Linked DNA regions of Homo sapiens: all the other regions are linked to region 2. Evidence: fine-mapped expression QTL. Tissue or cell type: whole blood. Region 2 holds a variant in brackets; each other region holds the start of a gene. Each region is shown on its reference strand, or each on the opposite one.

What was found.
Region 1: PI3 starts here. The variant in region 2 is fine-mapped to the expression of PI3 in whole blood (TOPMed, PIP above 0.99).
Region 3: SEMG1 starts here. The variant in region 2 is fine-mapped to the expression of SEMG1 in whole blood (TOPMed, PIP above 0.99).

The regions. Positions count from the first base shown.
Region 1 is chr20:45,173,473-45,176,138 of GRCh38, reverse strand. It overlaps PI3 (peptidase inhibitor 3), which reads right to left and starts at 1,237. Exons shown (of 3, transcript NM_002638.4): 1 at 1,138-1,237; 2 at 3-278. The coding sequence starts at 1,216. The coding sequence ends at 4. RefSeq lists an enhancer at 448-1,647.
Region 2 is chr7:6,633,777-6,636,442 of GRCh38, reverse strand. No RefSeq gene overlaps it. Among named protein-coding and RNA genes, the nearest start is that of ZNF316, 2.2 kb to the left of the region's middle. The variant A/T (reference allele first, on the strand shown) is at 1,216.
Region 3 is chr20:45,205,484-45,208,149 of GRCh38, reverse strand. It overlaps SEMG1 (semenogelin 1), which reads right to left and starts at 1,117. Exons shown (of 3, transcript NM_003007.5): 1 at 1,021-1,117; 2 at 1-776. The coding sequence starts at 1,096.

The DNA.
Region 1 (2,666 bases), not on the chromosome of region 2:
ACCTCACTGGGGAACGAAACAGGCCATCCCGCAAGAGCCTTCACAGCACTTCTTGATTCCTGGGCAGTCAGTATCTTTCAAGCAGCGGTTAGGGGGATTCAACATGGCGCACCGGATCAAGATAATGGGGCAGGAGCCAGGCTTAGTGGAGACTGGACCTTTGACTGGCTCTTGCGCTTTGACTTTATCTTGACCTTTAACTGAAACTTGTCCTTTAACGGGATCTTGTCCATTGAATGGAACACGGCCTTTGACAGTGTCTTGACCTTTAACAGGAACTGTTAAAAGAAGAAACGAGCCCACATTTATACCCAGTAAGCCTCTGCTTCAGCTGCCATGTCTTTCCTCTGGGTCTGGGTCCATCCACTGCTTACTGCAGCATCCTCAAACCATGGCCTGAGTAGGGAAGGTACACCTCTGGGAGCTACACTCTTGGAAGGCTCTTCCTTTTTTGGGGTGGTCTACTGGACCAGAGTTCCCTTGAGTATTTGTTTCTTCCCCCTTCCTCCACTCCAAGTCTCTCAGGAGCAGTGGTCAGACTGGGGTGACACCCAGCAGTGAAGAGGACACATTGTCATTTGTTAGGAAGTGCATTGGAGTAGGAAAGAACCCTGAGCCACATACTAGGAGACTTGAGCCCCATCCTGGCTCTGGGAATTACCTTGGCAATTGCTCACTCATTTCTACATTTTTGGTTCCCTCCTTATAAAATGGGGGTCCTCAAACAACATGATTCCTGAAGGCTTGTTGTTTCTTAACCTCCTTTTAGAGTACTGATTACTCCAGTGCTTTTATGGGGCAGAGAAACGGGGGACTGTGTCCACACCCAAGGTTTAAAATCCTGGAGTTCATTATTTTATTGCACATTCTGCACAGGTATTGACATCTGAGGCCAAGGCCACATACCAACATTACTTCCACAAACAGTCCTGATATCTCAGTCACTGAGGTGGAAAGCACGTGGAGTCCACCAGCCAAAGTCCTATTTTTTCTGAATATGATGGCAAAGAACAGAAAGCTGAAATCTGGGCTCCAGTGCTGCCTACTGCTTCAGAAGTGCTCCCTGTCCTGGCCCAGGGTGTCCCAGAGGGTCTCCCCTTAGTCCAACCCAGCCCAGCAGGTCACCTGTTCACTCACCTCCCGTGACAGCTGCCTCTAGAACCAGCGTCCCAGCGATGAGGAACACCACCACGATCAAGAAGCTGCTGGCCCTCATGGTGTCAGGAAGGTGTTTGGCTAAGAGCTAAGGCCATACCAATCTTTATGCAGTCCAGCTTGGCCTGGCTCCAGGGGCGGGTCTGTGGTATTTACAAGGGATAATTCCTTAGCTGTATTGGGAAATATCCACCCCATTCTGGGAGGGACCTGGGGGCTTTCCCTCAGGATTATTCACAGGAAGAACTAATGGACATTACATCACATCATCTCTGATTGTCCCAAGAGTTTTCCTACTTTCTCACAGAGTAGAAGTGCTGGCTCACTTATTAGGTAACATTACAATGAAATTCTTCATGTTTTGAAATACAGTGAGACCCAAGAAGAGAAAGGAATCACCGAAGGTTATTCAGCAAGTCACTGGTAGATCCAGTCTTGATTACAAAACCAAGGTGTTTCTCCATTATGCTCTGGTGCTACAAACCCCACCCAGATCTACTTTATCATTTTACCACTCCCAGCATCAAACTGGGCATTTCCTTCCTTCTTCCCTGGTCCTGCAAAAAACTCTGTAAGACAAATTTGCCTTGAATACATAATGACTAATTATTGCACTTTGCTGTTTCAGAGACGGCCTTTCAGATGCATCAAGAAAGTAATTGGAAGGTGGAATTCTAGGTCTGAAGAGGGATGATGCCCTTGAAATCACAGTGGTAGGGAGAAAATAATCAGAAAGTAGTAGAAAACATGTATCATGTATACATTGGACATCTACAGTGTGTGTGTCCAGCATGCCTCCCCACTTCTTTGAACAGCACCCTGTTTCTTGTGAAGAATTGTTGTCTCTTTGAACCATCAACTTGTGAGTCTAATGGGGACTGCTAATCATGAAAGCCTGACCCCTGACCACAGGTAGGGGTGTGTGTGTGTGTGTGTGTGTGTGAGTGTGTGTGTGTGTGTTGTGTGTGAGACTTGGTCTGGTCTATTAACATATTTTATTTGAATGAGTAATGAAAGGGGAAAACGGGGGTTCCTTCTTCTGGAAAAGGTGATATATATGAACCAGGGAATTCCAGAAGTGGTTATCTAAGTCTGGGGGTGGAGATCAATTGTCTGAGAAAAACGACTCTAATACACTGAGACAAGGAGAGAAGTGATGGTGAGAGAAGATTCAGATGACACAGCCAGGTTTCCCTCCTTTACCTTGAGAGCAGTTCTTCACACACCCTTCTCATGGTTGGGTTATGAGGCAATAAATTAGCCCTCTGCTTCAGCTAGTCTGACTTACTATTCTGTCATTGTTACCAAAAGTTCTGAGTAATAGAAATGAATATCCTGAAGTTGGGTATTGTCAGGGACAGAATCTGAGTTAAGAAAGTCACTGAGTTGAGGTGGAGTTAAGGCAGGGAAGGTAACAAACTAATTATTGGACACTAATTCAGCTGGTGAAATCCCCACCCCTTGTCGATTTAGACTCTGACCACATGCCCACCAAGCCTGAAACTGAGGGA
Region 2 (2,666 bases):
GGCAAGAGATAGAGGAGGACTCGGCCAGGCACGGTGTCTGTAATCCTAGCACTTTGGGAGGTCTTGGCGGGCGGATCACGAGGTCAGGAGTTCGAGACTAGCTTGGCTAACATGGTGGGTGAAACCCCATCTCTACTAAAAATACAAAAATTAGCCGGCCGTGGTAGCGCACCCCTGTAGTCCCAGCTGCTTGGGAGGCTGAGGCAGGAGAATCGTTTGAAGCCGGGAGGCAGAGGGTGCAGTGAGCCGAGATCACACCACTGCACGCCAGCCTGGGCGACAAGGTGAGACTCTGTCTCAAAATAATAATAAGATAGAGGAGGACTCAAACCTTAGTCCCACAGAGGGGTGCAGCCCCAACCCCTTGAATCAGACCCTCACAGTGATGTCGCTTGGCTCTTGGTGTCTTAAAATGTCTTAAAGTTAATAACATTTTAAAATAAGGAGTCCCATTCTTGTTTAAAAAATAAAATTGAAAAATCAGGTTCTAATGCGGGGTCTCACACCTATAAATTAAGCACTCTGGGGGGCCGAGGCGGGTCACACCTGTAATCCCAGCACTTTGGGAAAACAAGGTGGGAGGATTGCTTGAGCCCAGGAGGTTGAGGCTGCAGTGAGCTATGATAGCACCACTCCACTCCAGCCTGGGCAACAGATTGAAACCCTGTCTCTAATAATAAATAAAATCTGAAAAATCAGAAGTTCTGGCAACACAAGGCCCCTGGTTTGCAGGGCACCAGCCAGTAGGGCCTGAGAAGTAACCAGCTTCTGTGGGTGGGACTGAGCGTGGCCATGGTCCTCAGTGCCCACCACTCCCTGTCCCTTTCCTCCAGGCCCACATCTGAATGACACTGCCTGACTCTCCTGTGGGTATCTTTTAGAACCCCTAATCCCTAGATTAGACCCTTCCCCACCCTACCTGATCCGTCAGGTTCAGTAGGAAGGTGCAATTGCCCCCAGGCACTCCCAGGAAGGGCTCTGACTGTAGGACAATTAACAATTGACCAAAAGCAGTGTCACCAGGTGATGTGGTTTGGCTGTGTCCCCACTGAAATCTCGTCTTGAATTGTAGTTCTCATGATCCCCACATGTTGTGGAAGGGACCCGGTGGGAGGTAATTAAATCATGGGGGCAGTTCGCCTCATGCTGTTCTCATGTTAGTGAGTTCTCATGAGATCTGATGGTTTTGTAAGGGGCTTTTCCCCTTTGCTCCAC[A/T]CTTCTCCTTCCTGCCATCATGTGAAGAAGGAAGTGTTTGCTTCCCCTTCCACCATGATTGTAAATTTCCTGAGGCCTCCCCAGTCATGCGGAACTGTGAGTCAGTTTTTGGTGGTGGTGGTGGTTGGTGGTGGTTGGTGGTGGTGGTGGTGGTTTGTTTTGTTTTTGTTTTTTTCTTGAGATGGAGTCTCGCACTCTGTTGCCCAAGCTGGAGTGCAGTGGCACAATCTCTGCTCACTGCAACGTCAACCTCCCAGGTTCAAGTGATTCTCCTGCCTCAGCCTCCCAAGTAGCTGGGATTACAGGTGTGCACTACCACGCCTGGCTAATTTTTGTATTTTTAGTTGAGATGGGGTTTCACCGTGTTGGTCAGGCTGGTCTCGAACTCCTGACCTCGTGATCCGCCCGCCTCGGCCTCCCAAAGTGCTGGGATTACAGGCAAGAGCCACTGTGAGTTAAACCTCTTTCCTTTTATAAGTTTCCCGGTCTTGGGCAGTTCTTTACAGCAGCATGAAAATGGACTAATACACCAGGTAAAGGGAAGCAGCTGGAATGTGAAGGCACCAGGCCTTTGCCACCCTTAGCCCTGCAGGAGCAGGAAAGGGCAGGATGTTGTCAAGCCTGGAGGGAGGTGGAGATATAAAGATGGGGACACTGTGGGCACTGTGATTATAGAGGGACAGTGTGGCAAGGAGAGAGTACCCCAACCCTGCCCTCCTGCACCCTGTCACTTCCCAGTGCTGCCCGTTGCCCAAAACCACCTGTAATGTGGACAGCAAGGGACCCCAGAAGAGGAGTGTGTATAATAGAGTCAGCAGCTCCATCCCGGCCTTAGATCCCTCCACCCTGTCAGGCAGGGACCCCGAATCACCCCAGCATCTCCTCAGATCTCCTCTTGGCCTGTCCTCACCTGATACCTAATCCAAGACTCAATTTCTTCCTCTCCCTCGTCCACAGATAATTTTCCTTTTCCTTTTCCTTTTCCTTTCCTTTCTTTCCTTCTTTCTTTCCCTTCCTTCCTTTCTTCCTTCCCTTTTCTTCCTTTCCCTTTCCTTTTTAGGAAAGGAAAGGGCGTGAGCCACCTCACCGGGCCCTACGAGTGAGTTTTGCTTCTTGCTCCAACAGCACTGCTGAGGGGCTGAGGAGACGGAGAGGAGACGAAGGAAGCTGGTGGGACTTATGTGTCCTTGGCCTTAGGGAGATGCTAGACCAGGCCTGGGCCACCTGAGGATGCCTCTGACCTGGGGACAATTGGTTGTCATAAACTGTAGTTTAGTTGGACCTTCTTGTCACTCACTACTGAACTCAGTCTTGATAGATTTCCCTAGACTCATTTGAAGAAGGAAGTAATTAAAAAGCAGGCCAGGATTGGCCCATGCCTGTAGTCCCAGCACTTTGGAAGGCTGAGGCAGGAGGAAAGCTTAAGGCCAGGAGTTTGAGAGCAGCCTGGG
Region 3 (2,666 bases), not on the chromosome of region 2:
ATTTGCCTTTCGGCCATGCTGTTGATCTTGATTGAGATTTTTTGTCTGGTGTTGATTCTTGTTATATACTAGGAGCTCATCTTGGGTAGAAAAAATGTCTTTGGATCCATGTTGGAGTTTGTCTTGGTGCGCAGGACAGAGTGAGGTTTGTACTTTACTTGAATGTTCCTCTCTCACTTCAACCACATTTTGGTAATGCCCTTTATTTTGATGAGAATTTTTAGTCTCACGTTGTTGTTTGTTAGCTACTAGCTCTTCAGTTTGGAGAACATAACTGCTTTGGGATCCGCCTTGTTTTCTACCTTTTTGTGCACCAGAGACGGAAGTTTGTTCTTTACTTAGTCCATGAACCCACAGCCTTTCTTCTGTGTTTGAATATTGACTGGATATTCCCTTTCCAGATGGGCTATTCCCCTGATCTTGAGAAGGATTTTGTGTCCCACGATGAGCTTTGCCTCCTTTATGGTGTATAACTACCCTGTGAAAATGACCTTTTGATTTATCATGGTCTCTGCCTTCTTGTTTATTATGGAGCAGTTGTTGACTTCCACCTAGATGTCGTTGTGATTTTGTCGTCTTATGTAGGGCATTCAAATCATATTGCTGACTTTTTCGGGACTGGTCATGATCATTGGCATCTACATGATATGTGTATTGAATAGAAAAACTGCCTTTGGATTCAGTTTGTTGCTTGCCTTTTTGTCCAGAATAGTGCTGGCCCTTTTGTCCGTGTGGAAATTGGGAAAATTCACTTGGTAATCGGCCTTTTGATCCACCTGGTAATTGATAATAAGAAGGTATGCATTCATTATCTCCAAAGCTCCCTTACAACTCTTACCCCCCACTTTTCCCCCAACAAATTATTGATATTTCTAGAAAAGCTGAAGCTTTGGGTGGAGAAAATCAATTCTCTTCAAAGAGAAGAATCTGTGCCTAAACAGGTTACTGTTTGCACCCCAAATAATCTTAGATTATTAGCTGTCTGAGCAGCTTTCCCCAAGGCTTACCCTCTCCACTCACCTTTTTGTCCCATCACAGCTGCTTGCTTCTCCAAGATGAGGAGCAGGGAAAGTACAAAGATGATGTTGGGCTTCATCTTGCTTGGAAAACCTTGTCTGAGAGCTGAGCCGACCTTGTCATTTATATCTTCCTTGAGTGAGTGTGCCATGGGTGGAGCTTAAATTACAAAAGGCACTGACTTTTCTTAGCTTATCAGTAAATGCCAACTTCCTCACCCCTGCTGAGTGTGGGACAAAGTCAATGTCCCCAGCAACATAATGTCAAAGGCATTTTCTTTCTTCTGGCAGCCCCAGCAAATTTTTATCAGTCCTTTTAGATCATCATGCCAGATCACTTTAATTTTACAGAATTATAGACAAAAGTAGGAAAGAGACTGGCTTCAGGCTACAAAAGCAATTGGTTTCTGAGAATGCCTTTATATTCTAAATGTGAGTTTCCCTTCATGATGCAATAATTTAAATACTCTATTTTAGATAGAACTCCATACTTCCTTTTGTTTTAAAAATGATCTTGAGACACGTTCTATTTTACCTAAGAATGAGCAATCATAGAAGTCCAATGATATAGAAGATAATGAAACGTTATGGAATCCAAAGAAAGAAATTTTAAACAAGTAAATGGGGCACTCCAATGTCAAATATGTCTGTCAAGTTCAACACAATAAAGACTGACATGTATCCAAAGTTTTTCTTAGTTGTTGCTAGTAACTTTAATGAGAGATGAATACAATTGCATTGGGTTGTCAGTTGAAGGATGGAGACCAGCTGCAACCTTCTCAGGAAGTCTGAATTCATGGTGGAGTGAGAGCTGAGGCTGTATCTGGAGGGTGAGGTAAGTTCCAGATGTGTTTTCAAAGGATGAAAGAATTTTAATATGCTTTCATGGTGATAGGAACAACTGTTGGAAAAAAAGTAAAAATGCTGGTTTCTAGATTGGGTTCTTTTCATGAAATCTACCTAAACAGCAGAATTTTCTTTTTAATTAAGAGAAGTTTCTACTTCAGTAGTAAACAGCTGAATCCCCAAACAGGCTGTGAGAAATATTTGCCACCATCAATGAATTGAATAATGTATTGTGAGTGGACATGAAGCTAAAATTCCCACCTTTGGTAGAAGCATAGATTTTTCCAATTGTGATGACATCCTGAAAAGTCTGAAGAAACTTTCTTTACTTTGAGTCATAAAGACTTCGTTATGAGCAGACCACAGGAGAAGAAGAAAGCATCCCAACAGTGTCCCTGTGTACATTCAGAACACCTTGGAGGGTAGTGCTGGGGAAAGGATAGCTTGAAAACTTATTTTCAATTATTCTGTCTTAGAATCTTAACCTTCCTGTAGGCAATGCTCTATGGAAGGGGAAAAGAGAAAGGCCAACCACAGAAAAAAAGTGCTATGCTATCAAACATAAATCATGTGAGCTGCATGGTTTCTCTATGAGCCACTCTGAGATCTTACCAAATTTATCTGTTTGCCTCAAAGGCAGTAAGTAGTTCCTTATTGCAGAAACCCCAACAGAGTAAGGTGATATTGTTCTGAACTAAAATTGATTACTGTGTCTGCTAACCACTGTAATCTTCCTCACACTTCCCTTAAGAAAATACCAGAAACTGTTCTGTTCCAAACTTACTGATACAAAATAGAGTCTGA